2 separate regions of the Homo sapiens genome follow, and region 2 is linked to region 1. A link means that fine-mapping ties the variant in region 1 to the expression of a gene that starts in the linked region. Tissue or cell type: whole blood. Region 1 holds a variant in brackets; the other region holds the start of a gene. All regions are shown on one strand. Distances are between the middles of the regions.

Region 1 (8,105 bases):
ACGCCACTGCACTCCAGCCTGGGGGACAGAGCAAGACTCCATCTCAAAAAAAAAAAAAAAAAGAAAGAAAGAATCACTTGGGGTGAGTGTGTTCAGAGGCAGACTCCTGAGCCCCTCACTCAAAGAGTGGTTGCAGAAGCTCTGAGATGTTTCTAGGAGTCTGTATTTCCAGTACAGGTACCAAGTGATTATTCTGATGCAGGTAGTCAGTGGGCTATGCCCTGAGAAACATCGGGCCTTGAACAAGAGTGTTTTTCGTACACTGGAATGGGTTGAGCCCCCAAATAAGATATGTTCAAGTATCTAATCCCTAGTGGCTGTGATATGACCTTATTTGGAAATACAGTGTTTGCAGATATAATTAAGTTAAACATCTCAAGATGAGATTATCCTGGATTTAGGGTAAGCCCCAAATCCAATGACTAGTATCTTTATAAGATAAAGGAGAGATCAAATCGCTTGAGCCCGGGAGGCAGAGGTTGCAGTGACCCGAAATTACGCCATTGCACTTCAGTCTAGGAGACTGGAGTGAAACCCTGCCTCAAAAAAAAAAAAAAAAAAAAAAGAGATTGAAGACATAGAGACACAGTGGAGAAGGCCATGTGAGGATGGAGGCAGAGATTTGTGGGACGCTGCTATAAAGTTATGGAATGCCTGGAGCCACCAGACGCTGGAAGAGGCAAGAGAGGACCCTCCCGTAGAGCATCAGAGCGAGTGTGGCCCTGCTGACATCTTGATTCCAAACTTCTGGCTTCCAGAACTATAAGAAGATTAATTTCTGTTGTTTTAAGCCACCACATTTGTGGCAATTAGTCATAACAGCCACAGGAAATTAACACAGACACATACTCCTGCTGGGCCTGAGAAGCGCGTCGTGCATTCTGGGTGGCCTGATCCACTTCACACAGGTCGTGCATAAGCGGAATCACCTATTCACTGAATAAGGACATTTCGCCACAGGTCATTTTCTAAACAACAGAATTCTGTAATGTGATCAACTTCTTCAACTTCCTATGTTTTAGAAAGTTATATTTTCTGAAATACCTCGTATAACCTGTAATTTCCTTCTCTTTTGTGTGTCTGCTGGAAAATAACTTGTCCACTTACTCATCAGACCTCAACAATTTATTTATTTATTTAAGTTGTTTTTAAAGACAGAGCTTTGCTCTGTCGCCCAGGCTGGAGTGAAGTGGCATGACCCCGGCTCACTGCAACCTCCACCTTCCGGGTTCAAGCAGTTCTCCCTGCCTCAGCCTCCCAGTAGCTGTATTACAGGCACCTGTCACCACGTCCAGCTAATTTTTGTATTTTTAGGAGAGACAGGGTTTCACCATGTTGGCCAGGCTGGTCTCGAACTCCTGACCTCAGGTGATCCTCCTGCTTCGGCCTCCCAAAGTGTTGGGATTACAGGCATAAGCCACTGCTCCCGGCCCTCAACAATTTATTTTTGGCCAGAGATTTCTTCTGGTGCTCATTCCAGACAACAAATGCTCTACCACTTTGTTCTAAAAGAACATTAACATCATAACTGGCTGAGGCCTTCAGAGGGCTCAGGTCTCTCCAGGAGCAGATGTTTTTGTGCTCAACTCAGTCGCTGGAAGGACACTTGCTGACACCTGATTGGTACACTGCCCCGCATGCTTCTGCTGACAGCTAAAAAAACACCCTGGAAGGGCAGTCAGTCAGGGGACCATTCATCCTGTCCTCTCTTCTTAATGGCCATAAGCCTATTCAGCACAGCGGCAGGGGATGATCAAAAAGTTATCACAATTAGGAGCTGGTTCCATTGCCTTGGATGAAATTCCATTGATCCAGAGGAAGCAAAAAGCATCAGCCCGCCTTTGAGTCAAGGGTTTCAAACTCAAACGTCTACACAGGGGCCAGGCAGATGACAGAAATGAGTGATGTGGGCCAGGTATAAGCACTAAGGAGTGGCGGGGACAGTGATGAACCAGAAAGCCCAGCCCCTTTCTAAATAGGACCACTGATACTCAGCTCCAGCCAGTGGCCACCATGTAAGGGTCTCACTCTGTCACCCAGGCTGGAGTGCAGTGGCACAACCACGGTTCACTGCAGCCTCCACCTCCCAGGTTCAAGCAATCCTCCTGCCTCAGCCTCCTGAGTAGCTGGGACCAGAGGTGCATGCCCCCACACCTGGCTGATGTTTTAAAAATTATTATTTGTAGAGATGGGGTCTCCCTATGTTGCCCAGGCTAGCCTCAAACCCCCGGGTTCAAGTGATCCTCCCACCTTGGCCTCCCAAAGTGCTGGGATTACAGGCATAAGCCACCGCACCTGGCCTGTCTCAAGTTTTAAAACATCATGCAGACCAAAAAACAAAAAAACAGAAACAGAAACACATTTAAGGGGCTGCCTGCCAGTTTATGGAGCTGCTTTGAGTAATATATAAGGAATACTCCATAACACACAGCACATGCAGAACTTTGCATAAGATCTTTTCTACTGAAGACAGTATTTCAAAGCCCACGAGGAGAACTCCCACCCAAGTTACTTCAGATAATAGGTCGGTATGAAAGGAATGATACAGTAGAATGGACAGAAGGAGTAGGATCCTTAAGGTAAGAATGGGACTCACTGGAACAATAATAGATGACTTTGAAAAAGCACCAAATAAAAATCCTAGAAATGAAAATTATAGGCCAGGTGCAGTGGCTTACACCTGCAATCCCAACGCTTTAGGAGGCCAAGGCAGGCGGATTGCTTGAGCCAGGAGTTTGAGACCAGCCTGGGCAATATAGTGAGACCCCGACTCTACAAAAAAATTTTAAAAATTAGCTGGGCATGGTGGCGTGCACCTGTAGTCCTAGCTACTCAGGAGGCTGAGGTGGGAGGATCACTTGGGCCTGGGAGGCAGAGGTTGCAGTGAGCTATAATTGCACCCGGTCCACTCCAACCTGGGTGACAGAGTGAGACTCTGTCTCAGAAAAAAAAATGAAACATTATAACTATAGATATTTTTAAAAATAAAAAGCATATGATAAAATGTTCACAACCTTTGATTCAATAAGTCTAGAAATTTATCCTAAGGAAGTAACCTGGAATTCAAAGAGAAGTTTATGTGCAAAGATGCACACTGTGGTTACTTGTAATAGAAAAACTGGAAGCAACTCAAATATTCAATCATGGAGGCGTAGGTGAGAAAATCATGAGATGGGAAGGAAGGGATGGAGTGTGAGTGTGGGGTCAGAGTGACGTGGGTTAGAATTATGCAACATGTACTATCAGCTGTGGGTCTTGGGCAAATCATCTTCCAGAAACAATATCTTCCTTCCAGGGTTGTTGGGAGATTTAGGGATGGCGACGGGGAGTGCTTGGTATATGGAAAACCCTCCTTGGGCCAGGCACAGTGGCTCATGCCTGTAATCCTAGCACTTTGGGAAGCCAAGGCGGGAAGATCACTTGAGGTCAAGAGTTCGAGACCAGACTGGCCAACACAGTGAAACCCCATCTCTACTGAATATACAAAAATTAGCTGGGTGTGGTGGCACATGCCTGTGGTCCCAGAAACTTGGGAGGTGGGAGGATCGCTTGGACCTAGGAGGCAGAGGTTGCAGTGAGCTGAGATCATGCCACTGCACTCCAGCCTGGGCAAGCAGAGTGTGACTCCATCTAAAAAAAAAAAAGAAAAGAAAAGAAAAGAAAACACTGCCTGAATTGTAGCAGTTGTTATTTGTTCACCTACAAAATGGAATGTTATGATCATTAATGTGATGGTTACAAAGAATTTTGAGTGGCTGTGGTATGAAAAACCCCGCAGAATACCACAAGATATATATATATATGCTATTATCTCATAGGAGCTGTATGAAATAATTGGTACAGATGAGGAAAATTCCCCCGAGGGTTGTTATTGATTATTTCAGGGTAGGGGAATTATGGGTGATTTTGATCCCCCTCTATGCTTTTCTGTTTCCCAATAGTTTTGTTTTATAAACAGTGTGCATCCGCCTATAATCTCAGCTACTTGGGAGGCTGAGGCAGGAGAGTCGCTTGAACCTGGGAGGCGGAAGTTTGCAGTGACTGAGATGGCGCCACTGCACTTCAGCCTGGGTGACAGAGTGAGACTCCATTTCAAAAAAAAAAAAATAAGTAAAAAATAAAGAGTGT[G/A]CATCTCTTTTGAGAATTTTAAAAAATTATGGAAAAAATTCAGTTATCACCTAGTTCTTAGAGAAAGTCTTTTTTCATTCATCTTGTTGCCTTGGAAACCAAAATTAGTCTCACCAGTTCCTGGGAATGCGATTCAGCCACTGGGTGAGTTTGACCTGGGCCTTGGAGTTACCTGAAGTTGTAGCCAGGGTACAAGGACACGTTGGTGGTCTTGTCGTCAAGGCGACGGAAACTGTATTTGGGACGGCAGTGATGGAACCAACGGTCTAGGTTGCAGTCCCAGTAGATCTCAATGCCCATTATTCCGCCCTGAAGGATCAACAAGGGACAGTCTCTATGGCTGCTGGGTGTGAGTTACGCAACCGCCAGACATCTCCCTGCATAGCCAGGATTGCTTAAGGTTTTTAGAGGAAAAATGCTGATTGAAGAACCATATGTACAGCCCCACCTAACTCGCACAAGTGTTATTGTGGCAGCCACAATCGCATCTCCTCACTCTCCCTACCCCCGTCTGGGACACATCACCGTTAAACTCATTGTCCTAAAATACAACTTTCAACAGACCACTCCTGTACCCAAACACCTTTAATGCCCCCCACGCCCCCATTAAAGATCAAGTCCAAACTTATTAGACTGGAATTCAGGGCACTCTATCAAATATCTTTTCTGCTTTACCTCCTAGTACTCCCCTAGGGAAAGCTCTTTGCAGATGCGAATACATGAAGGATTTTTTTTTTTTTTTTTGAGATGGAGTTTCGCTCTTGTCACCTAGGCTGGAGTGCAGTGGTGCGATCTCGGCTCACTGCAACCTCTGCCTCCCAGGTTCAAGCGATTCTCCTGTCTCAGCCTCCCGAGTAGCTGGGATTACAGGAGCCTGCAATCATGCCCGGCTATTTTTTTTTTTTTTTTGTATTTTTAGTAAAGATGGGCTTTCACCATGTTGGCCAGGCTGGTGTTGAACTCCTGACCTCAGGTGATCCACCCACCTCAGCCTCCCAAAGTGCTGGGATTACAGGCATGAGCCACCGTGCCCAGCCTAAATGAAGGATCTTGAGATGGGAGATTATCCTGGATTATCCAGTTGGTCCTTAAATGCCCCCTCTTGTAAATGCTCTCTCTCTTTGTAAGACAGAGGCAAAGGGAGATTGGACACAGGATAGGGAGTGAAAGTGGCCACTGAGGCAAGATGTTATGCTGCTGGCTTTGAAGAAATGCAAGGAATGCAGCTCCAGAAGGTGGAAAAGCTGAGGAACTGGATTCTCCCTTAAAGTCCCGGAGGGAGCACTGCCCTGGCTCAGGGAAAATCATCTCCAACTTCTGATCTCTGGCAACATAAGCAAATATGTGTTCTTTGAAGCCACTAAGCTTTGATAACTTGCTACAGCAGCCACAGGAAAGGAATACACCAAGTAGCTCTCACTCATAAGGATTGTTTTGGGATTTGACGAGGTATGGTAGGTAAAGTCCTTAGCGTAGCGGGTGGATTTACTAAATGCTCAGTAAATGTGAGCCACATTATGAAGACCCAGTGGCCCGGCCTCTTGGCTGTTTGACATCCTCCATCCCTAGACACACAGCCCCACATCCCAGTGTACAAAGCACCACCAACCTGAATTGCCACATCTGAAAAATTATCGCCTGTTTCTCGGAAGATGTCTCCTAGTCGGAAAATGGGACACTGTGGATTCTGAGTCTTGTGGAAGGTACAAGTGATGTTTAAACCTGGCAGGATGTTTCTCCTGTGCATAATTAAAAGCAAACAAACAAACAAACATCTCGATTGAAAACAGATCTGTCTCTTTCCCAGGAGTGAGCCAGTGTGGTGGAGAGGTTCCATGAAAGCCCCAAATGATCACTGCCTCCTGGGACCCCTGGGCAGTGGCCTCTCACACTGGACCAGGGTTGATCTGTGTGACCAATGGCATATGGCAGAAGTGTTGGGGTCTCCCCCCAAAGACTGTGGCTTCCATCTTGGTTATACTCTTGGTTGCTTGCTCTGTCTCTCTTGGGTCACTTGCTCTGGGAGAAGCCAGCCACCATATACCAAGGATACTCAAGTGGTCTAGGGCGAGGTTCACGTGGTGAGGAACTGAGCTCTCCCACGAGCAACTGTGTGAGAGCTTGGAAAAGTGTTCTCCAGCCCCAGTCAAGCCTAGAAATGACTGCAGCCCTGGTTGACAGCTTGGCTACAACCTGACAGACCTTGAGCCAGAACCACGCAGCAAAGTCATTCCCAGATTCCTGACCCACAGAAACCGTGGGAGACAATAGGCGTTTGTTGTTTCAGGCTTCTGAGGTTTGGGATAATTTATTACTCAGCAGTAGATAACTAAGACAGCCAGGCAGCCTGGGCACTTACGTGGTGTAGTTGTGGCCGGGGAAGTCGATATTGTTCTTGATGAGCACAGTGAAGTTTTCGGCACTGTTCAAGAGAGCAGGCCTGGGAGAGAGACATGCAAAATGGCCATTAGTGACGGGGGGAACCGAGGGAGCCCATGGGCCAGTGGGACCAGAGGCTTCTGGTTTCTTGGCTTGGTCTTTGGGATACATGAAGAGAAATGGATACAGCAAACCTAGTGGGCAAAGCATTCTGAAACTCTCCACAAAGCCCCTCCAGCTCCTCCAAGAAGAATTTCTCCCTTCTTGAGATCTGATATGGTTTGGCTCTGTGTCCCCACCCAAATCTCATCTTGAATTGTAATCCCCATGTGCCAGAGGAGGGGCCTGGTGGGAGGTGACTGAATCATGGGGGCGGACTTCCTCCTTGCTGTTCTTGTGATAGTGAGTGAGTTCTCACGAGATCTGATCATTTAAAAGTGTGCGGCACATCCCCCGAAACCCGCCTCCTGCTCCATCATGGTAAGATGTGTTTGCTTCCCCTTCGCCTTCTGCCATGATTGTAAGTCTCCTGAGGCTTCCTGTTAAGCCTGTGGAGCTGTGAGTCAATTAAACCTCTTTTTTTTCGTAAAGTATTTGGTCTCAGGTAGTTCTTTATTTTTATTTTTATTTTTTTCTGAGATGGAGTCTCACTCTGTCACCCAGGCTGGAGTGCAGTGGCGCGATCTTGGGTCACTGCAACCTCCACCTCCCGGGTTCAAGCGACTCTCCTGCCTCAGCCTCCCGAGTAGCCGGGATTACAGGCGTGTGCCACCACACCTGGCTAATTTATGCATTTTTTAGTAGAGATGGGGTTTCACCATGTTTGCCAGGCTGGTATCGAACTCCTGACCTCAAGTGATCCGCCTGCCTCAGCCTGCCAAAGTGTTGGGATTACAGGCGTGAGCCACCGCACCTGGCTAGGTAGTTCTTTGTGTGAGAATGGACTAACACAAGACCCAGTGGCATTTACTGTGGCACCTCTCACAGTGATGTAATTACACATTCAGGTATGTACAGTGGTTGAGACTTGCTCCGTATCTGGGACTTGTATTTTACCTAAAACTTAGCAAAGTCTCTTATGCGTAGTTACGTATGAAATAAATATCTAACACCTACTACGTGGTGATGGATGTGTTGAATGAATGATTAAACGAACCATCTTAGCTAATTCATATAATATATGAGAAACTGAAGTTCAGGGAGTTGCTTGCCCAGGTCACGTCAAAATCCAGCCCAGAGGCAGGCACACTGGAGATGCAGTTTATTTAATGAGTGAGTTGATAGCAGAGCTGGAACTGAAACTGCAGTCAGTCAAGGGCCGCTTGTCTTGAACAAGGACTACCTGAGTGGAGGCTGCTGTATCTCCCAGAGCTGGGTGATTCCTTCTGTGACAAAGAAATGCCCCTGACCGAGAAATGAACCTGAGTGGAGCTATTAGCGATTGAGAATCATAAGGGGTGATGCTGCTGAGCGCACCCCCCATCCCGGCATTGGGAAACCTTCGCCTGAGCCTTCTACAGGCCAGCTTGGGGCAGTTTTCTCTTTGCCCCACGATGCTGAGGGAATGATCCTGAATCACATCGGTCTAGAACTGCGCT
Region 2 (8,105 bases), 36 kb after region 1:
TTTTGAGACAGAGTCTTGCTCTGTGGCTCAGGCTGGAGTGCAGTGGTGCAATCTTGGCTCACTGCAACCTCCACCTCCTGGGTTCAAGTGATTCTCCTGTCTCAGCCTCCCGAGTAGCTGGGATTACAGGCACCCACCACCATGCCCGGCTAATTTTTGTATTTTTAGCACAGATGGAGTTTCCACCACGTTGGCCAGGCTGGTCTCAAACTCTTGACCTCAAGTGACCTGCCCGCCTTGGCCTCCCAAAGTGCTGGAATTACAGGCATGGGCCACCATGCCGGACCCAGCATATATGTTTATCATTCAATATTTGTTGAACAGTAAACATATGAATCGAATAATAATAATCCTAATAATAGCATTATTAATAATAAGAACTAACACTTAATCAGGGATTACTATATGCCATATATTTCTCAAACAGCTTTGCATTTATTAGTTCATTTAATATTCCTATCAACAATTCTCCCCATTTTACAGATGATGAAACCAAGGCTCAAAGAGGTGAAGGATTTTTGAATCCACGTTTCCAGATTTCAAATCCTGAACTTGGACGTGGTTACTTTGAGGGTCAGAGCAGAGGATATAGATAAAAATACATACATGTATTTTATATACATATATACTATTATATAATCAAAAAAATTATTACTATTATTATTATTTTGAGATGGAGTCTTGCTCTGTCACCCAGGCTGGAGTGCAGTGGCTTGATCTTGGCTCACTGCAACCTCCGCCTCCGGGTTCAAGCGATTCTCCTGCCTCAGCCTCCCTAGTAGCTGGGATTACAGGTGTGCACCACCACTCCCCACTAATTTTTGTATTTTTAGTAGAGATGGGGTTTCACCATATTGGCCAGGCTGGTCTCAAACTCCTGACTTCGTGATCCACCCGCCTTGGCCTCCCAAAGTGTTGGGATTACAGGTGTGAGCCACCACTCCCAGACTTAAAAAGATTATTTTTAAAAATAGATACTAGTTATGGAGCTCTTATCCTATGTCAGTCATCATGATAAGGGCTGTTCATGCCTTTTTTTTTTGGTTAATTGCCACAACCCTATGAACAGATGCAGAAACTGAGGCTCAGAGAAGTTAATGACTTGGCCCAGAAGACATAGCCAGTACTATGAAATAAGTTACCCTAACTCTTAGTAAACTACACTGCCACTCTATAGATACAAATTGCCTTCATCATCATTATCAATCAGCACAGAGAATAAGAGGCACTCACCATCAGGGAAATTCAAATCACAACCACAATGAACTACCACTTCACACCCACTAGCATGGCTATAATAAAAAAGACAGACAATCAGCCGGGCGTGGCGGCTCATGCCTGTAATCCCAGCACTTTGGGAGGCCAAGGTGGGCGGATCACTTGAGGTCAGGAGTTTGAGACCAGCCTGGCCTACATGGCGAAACCTCATCTCTACTAAAAATACAAAAATTAGTGAGGAGTGGTGACGCACACCTGTAATCCCAGCTACTCATGAGGCTGAGGCAGGAGAATCGCTTGAACCGGGGAGGTGGAGGTTGCAGTGAGCCAAGATTGCGCCACTGCACTCCAGCCTGGGCAACAGAGCAAGACTTCATCTCAAAGACAAAAACAAAATGACAACAACAAAACCCAAAAAGACAGACGATAACAAGCGTTGGTGAGGATGTGGAGAAATTGGATCCCTCATACTCTGCTGATAGGAATGTAAAAAACTGCAGCTGCTGTGAAATTCAGCTCCACATTCCCCCCAAAGGTGAAACATAGTTAACATATGACCTAGCAATTTTTACTCTTAGGTACATATTCGAGAGAAAGGAGAATATATATCCACATAAAACCTTGTACACAAATGTTCATGTGGCATTATTCATGATAGCCAAAAAAGAGAAACAACCCCAATGTCCATCAATGGATGAATGGATAGAAAAAAGTGGTCTATCCATGCAATGGAGTACTACTCAGCCGTAAAAAGGAATGAAGTATCAGCCGGGTGCAATGGCTCACGCCTGTAATCCTGACACTTTGGGAGGCCGAGGCAGGCAGATCACTTGAGTCCAGGAGTTTGAGACCAGCCTGGACAAAATAGTGAGACCCCGTCTCTTTAAAAAAAAAAATTGAATGAAGTATCAACACATGCTACAACATGGATGAGCATTGAAAACACGCTAAGTGCCACAAAGGACCACATATTATGTGATTCCATTTATATGAAATGTCCAGAATCGGCAAATCCATAGAGGCAGAAAGGAAATTGATGGGTGGGAAGGAGGAGGAACAGTGTTGGAAATGATGGTGAAGGAGTGTGGGATTCCTTTTGAGTCGATTAAAATATTCTAAAATTGATTGTGGGGATGGTTGCACAACTCTGGGAATAATCTGAAAATCATTAAATGGTACCCTTTAAATGGGTCAATTGTATGGTGTATAAATTATATCTCAGTAAGTTTCTTTTAGAAGAAACAAAAACCAAAAAGCAGGGCCTTCCTGACGTTGGTGAGGACCTAAAGTTATAACACATTTTCAAGCCTGGTCCTATTCCTCCCAAGCATGGTGACTCAGATGCCAGCATGATCACCAGGCGTGCCCTGAGATCCTCGCCTCCTCCCTGGGGATCCAGGGTGTTGCCCTGCGCTTTCCTACCTTCCCCAGGCACGCCCTGCCCTGCGCGCCCTGGCGGGCCTGAAGTAGAGCAGAAAGGAATCCCGCTTGTCCTGTGGCTTCTCTCTGCTGCAGCCTGGCACCGTTTCCTCTTGCCTGCTGCTGCTTCCTCCCTCCCGCCCAGCTGGCTGTGAGAGCACGTCTCAGATTCGAAAACCATGTGAGATTCAGAATGTGCACCTGAAGCTGCCCGCTGGGGCTTTCTGTGCTGTCGGCCACTGCAGAGATCTGGGTCCTCCCCAGATCCCACTTACCAAACGTAGGAAAAGATGATCACGTGGAAGAACCACTTAATGGTGCCATAATTCATGCTCTGGATCCGAGTGACTTTGTTCGTCTCATACTGGAAAACATCACTGCAGCTGCAGCAGGCCGGCATGGTGACAGCCTCCCTCCCTGCGCGGAGCTGGACCAGAGCTCTACTCTTCCTGACAGGGCCACAGCAAGCCCCCTCCCAGTAACTGCAAAATGAAACGTACTGGTTTTTAGCAGGAGTCTTTAACTTCAAGCTCCTCCAATGACTGCAGAGTTGGGGCGGGCCCTGGCAGTGGCCCCACATGTGGCTGTGATAAACAAGAAGCGCCAAGTCCTACGGGCCTGGCTGGCAGATGACCTCACCCCAGCTGGCCTCCCCCAGATGCCTACACAAAGATGGTGTTCAGAGGATGGGCATTTTTAGAATTCTCCCTTTTCCCCCCTTTCCTTTCACTTTTTTGGTCTCATGTCTCTTGGGAGAAAGGGGCAGCCTTGCAAATGTCACAAGACTGGGAGCTTCCATTATGCCTCAGAAAAGGACTGAGATCTTTCCATTGCCTGAAGCCCCACTCAGAGATTGATTCATTCATTTCTACAACCCTTTATTCAGCCCCTGATGTATAGGAGCTCTGGGTAAATGAAGATCTCCCCCTCTTCTTCCACCGCCCCTTATAATACTCTGGTCTGCAGTTGGTGGGGGAAATCAGATTTGCAGGGGTAGGGGTGGTGGGGGTGGAGGGGCTTTATTTTTCTGCCAGATCTTTCATGCTTGACCCTCTGAGTTACTCTCCACCCTCCTCTGCACCCCGGCAGGTCGATCTATGACCTAGACCAATCAGCCAAAGATCACCAGGGACACAGTGGCAGTCCAACAAAGTTAGGTTTGTTGACCTATTCAGTGAGGGACACCACCCACCAGAAGAGCTACGCACATCACCAAACAAAGGAAAACAGCAATTTATTATAGGATTCCGAGGAAAGTGGAGTTGAGATAAAATCTAAATGAAGTCATGTTTTGATGGACTCAAAGCAAAACAGGTTTGTACAAAGCAGTCAACTTCAGTCTGGATTGCAAAGAGGACCCAGGGCCCTGTTTCCTAGGAAGCAACATAGCTAAGATACATGTCAAATGTGTCCAGAAAATCTTTATCTGAAGCTCTGCTCCTGAGTTGTAAATTGAGGCTGCTTCTCTGTGTCAAGATGACTTAAATCTTCCAGGCAAAATTGGAATATTTCAGTCTTAGTCATGTAATTTCAAACAGCAAAGTTTCTGAAGGTCTCTGATTTTAAAGGACAATGTTTCAGCAGTCACTCAAAGATGCAGGGTTGTATTATCACTTTACAGCTACAGAGAATTATTGTTCCCTGTTATCTTTACAGCTGGCTTGATCCCTTTCTGTTATTCCAGCCTGCTAAGTGGCCGGGTAGATTTTCAGTTTTTCAGTCTAAACTAATTGTACTTTCTCACACATACAAACTGCATCAGGGTTCCCCTCACCTTCTGGCTTCCAGTTCAGGAGACTGGAGAGCAGTGAGGATGGACGTGACTCCCTGGCCCTGCCCTTCTCAGTTGCATATAGGCAGGGCTTCTGGGCACCACTCCCTCCTTTAGTCCTGGGAGTGGTAAGGGCTCCCCACTCTTACCAGCCCCAGGAAGCTCACTATCTCCTATTGCTTTTTCTTAACTCTGTCCACACCTTTGTAAATGGTTCCATCATTAGTTACCCCACTTGAGTATGCCATTGCTTTCCTGCCGGGAATCTGAGTGATACGGTCATCTTCATCTGTAAAAAGAGGAGATTCACAGGTAAAGCCTGATGCTTAGAACATAGGCTCTAGGGGACTAATGGCCTGGCTTCCGATCCTGGCTTCACATCTTACCAGCTCTGTGACCCTGGACAGCTCTGTTTATGCTATTCATTCACTCATTCCCAAGAGCACCAGGAATAGTAGATATGGCAGTGAACAGGCAGACAAGTCAAATGTCCATCAGCTGATGGATGGATACACAAAAGCACGAAAGCCCATACAAGGGAATATTATTCAGCCATAAAAAGGAATGAAACACTGACCCATGCTCCAACATGGATGAACCTTGAAAACACTACGCTTAAGTGAAAGAGGCCAGACACAAAAGGATACATCTTTTACGACTCCATTTATAGGAAATGTCCAGAATAGGCAAATCACTTCAGTGTTGCTCTTGCTACCACTCAAAGACATCTATTTTCTTGTCTTTCTTTCTTTCTCTTTTCTTTCTTTCTTTTTTTTTTTTTTTTTTTTTTTTTGTTTTTTTGAGATGGAGTCTCCCCCTGTTGCCCAGGCTGTAGTGCAGTGGCAAGACTTTGGGTCACTGCAACCCCTGCCTCCTGGGTTCAAGCGATTCTTGTGCCTCAGCCTCATGAGTATCTGCAATTACAGCCATGCGCACGCTCAGCTGATTTTTGTGTTTTTAGTAGAGATGGGGTTTCACCATGTTGGCTAGGTTGGTCTCGAACTCCTGGTCACAAGCGATCTGCCCGCCTTAGCCTACCAAAGTGTTGGGATTACAGGCGTGAGCCACTACACCCGGCCTGTTTGTTGTCTTTCTGCTGCACTCTTGCACTGGTCCCTCATGCTCTCCCCTCTCCACTCCTTCAGCCCTTGTCCGCTATTTCATCACTGCTACCTCCTCCACTCCATGGATTCTGTTCTCAAAGAGGTTACCAAAGACTTCTCAGTTGCCAGACTGGGTGGATATATTTTATTCCTTATGTTACTTGATCTCTTGGATGCATTCAACATCACTGGCTACTTTCTGCATCTTGGACCAGTATTTTCCCTTGGTTTCCATGACTTTCCTGGGTCCCATGTTCTCCTGGTTTCTCATTTGTACTTCTATGACTCTTTATCTTATCTTTCTTTTTAAAAAATTAATTTAATTAATTTATTTTAGAGACTGGGTCTTGCTCTGTCGTCCAGGCTGGAGTGCAGTGGCGCAATCATGGCTCACTGCAGCTTCAAACTTCTGGGCTCCAGTGATCCCCCTACCACAGCCTCCTGAGTAGCTGGGACCACAGGCACATGCCACCAAGCCTCGTTAATTTTTTTTTTAATTTTGTAGAGATAGGGTCTTGCTATGCTGCCCAGGCTGGTCTCGAACTCCTGGCTTCAAGTGATCCTCCTGACTCAGCCTTCCAAAGTGCTGGGGTTACAGGCATAAGCCACTGCATCCAATCTTTGTCTTATCTTTCTCTGGCTCTCTTCTCCCTGTAAATATCAGTTCCAGCAAATTGTCTCTCAGCACTTCTTATGATTCTATCAGGATAGGACAGGTTATGCTGCAATAACAAAGCACTCTCAGTGTCTCATGGCTTATAGCAGTGATGAATTAATTCTCACTCACACTATATGTCCATCATGGGTCTCCCAGATGGCTCAGCTCTCTGTAATCACTCAGAGATCGAGGCTAACGGAACAGCCATTGTCTTGAACTCTTTAATGAGAACTCTGGAGAGTCTCACAGCAGCAATGAAATGTTCTGACCTCGTGATGGAAGGAATATAAAGTTACCAAAAAAAAAAAAATTGGGGATTGAACGGTGGATTTCTTAGTCTTGTGAGTGTGTGGGTGTGTTTACAATTTACAGAAAATCAAGTGACATTCTTCAGCAGAAAAGGGAGTTTTTTTTTTTGAGGAAACACTTATCTCACAGACTGCAAGTGCAGGAAATGTGCCCAACCTCATGAGAACCTATTAATAGAATCAGAAACCAAACTGTCCTGTGCTGAGGTTGCTCTTTCAGTTTGTCTGAAGCCCGCCTCTGTTTGTCTCTGTGTGCCCATTGCGAGTCTCTCTAAACACTGGCTTCCTCTGTTTCTCCCAGGGCACGTGGTTCAGCAATGCTCTCCAAGTTAGGTTCCACAGTTCAAATGCAAGCCCAGATCCCCTGCCCAGTTCCAGAACTCAAGGGGAATGAATCTGATTGGCCTAATTCTTTATCCCTGGTCCAATCAGCTATGGCTGTGGGCGGGGCCATAATCACACAGGGCGTCAAGGGCCAACCTCCGTTGGGGGAGAAGGGAGGGAGGAAAGAAAGGAAGATGGCGGGAGAGAGAGAGAGAGAGAAGGGGGGTGGGAAGAGAGAGAGAGAGAGGGAGAGAGAGAATGAGAATGTGACTCTCAGAGAATAGAGGCTCCAAGGCTGAGGGACTGCTGGTTAAATACCCGTTCCTCCCCCAGGTGGGACAACTCTGAGACAAGTCTAGGCAGTCTCCAGAGGGCCTGAGGGGGTCTGAGCCCAGATGCCCACAGCCGTGACCTGCTCTTTAATTAATTAATTAGTTTTATTTATTTCCAGTGTCTTGCTCTGTCGCCCAGGCTGGAGTGCAGTGGCACGATCTCGGCTCACTGCAACCTCCGCCTCCCGGGTTCAAGCGATTCTCCTGCCTCAGCCTCGCTAGTAGCTAAGACTACAGGCGCGTGCCACCACTCCCGGCTAATTTTTGTATTTTTAGTAGAGTTGGAGTTTCACTATGTTGCCCTAGCTGGTCTAGAACTGCCGACCTCAGGTGATCCGCCCGCCTCAGCCTCCCAAAGGGCTGGGATTAGAGGTGTGAGCCACTGCGTCCGGCCTCCTGACCTACTCTTTAATGCTTCCTGTGTTGACTGCCTTCCCTTTCCTGTCTCACTTCCCCACTCCTCTTCCTGGGTCGCCTCCCAAACAAACTACTTGGACCTGAATCTCGTCCAGCCTTATGTTCTGGTGTTAAAGAGTCTGTCTGGAATTTACCCTGAGAACAATAGGTGGGTTTATAAACGGGTGTGCATGGTCTCATTTGCAGCTCAGTCAGAGCACTCTAGCTGCACCATGGAAAATGGGCGGAAGGGGCAAGAGTGGAGCCAGGGGTCTGCCCAGGGAGAGGGTAGAGTGACATGGAGGGGGACCGAAGACAGATCCCTGAAGGACACCAACACCAAGGAGACTAAGCTGAGGCAGAGTAGGGAGGAGAGGAAAGCCGAAAGACAGTGAGTCCCCAGAGGCCATGGGGTGAACACTTCACAAATAAACCGGTGACCACGGAGATATTAAGAGCGATGGTAAATCTGTGTAATTAAAGCAGCTCTAGTAAGGGAACTGACAGACACATTATTGGAACAGGGTGGAGTCACGTATTAAACACAAAGATAGGTGCAGACCGGGTGCGGTGGCT

Evidence for each region. PIP is the estimated chance that this variant, and not a neighbour inherited with it, causes the effect.
Region 2: P2RX7 starts here. The variant in region 1 is fine-mapped to the expression of P2RX7 in whole blood (INTERVAL, PIP above 0.99).

The regions. Positions count from the first base shown.
Region 1 is chr12:121,163,820-121,171,924 of GRCh38, reverse strand. P2RX7 (purinergic receptor P2X 7) reads right to left here. Exons shown (of 13, transcript NM_002562.6): 6 at 6,488-6,568; 7 at 5,738-5,867; 8 at 4,301-4,437. The region is part of intron 2 of LOC105370032 (a long non-coding RNA gene); the gene reads left to right. Among named protein-coding and RNA genes, the nearest start is that of P2RX7, 35 kb to the right of the region's middle. The variant G/A (reference allele first, on the strand shown) is at 4,129.
Region 2 is chr12:121,127,903-121,136,007 of GRCh38, reverse strand. P2RX7 (purinergic receptor P2X 7) reads right to left here and starts at 3,132. Exons shown (of 13, transcript NM_002562.6): 1 at 2,913-3,132. The coding sequence starts at 3,037. All of the region lies in intron 2 of LOC105370032 (a long non-coding RNA gene), which reads left to right. RefSeq lists an enhancer at 6,728-7,022.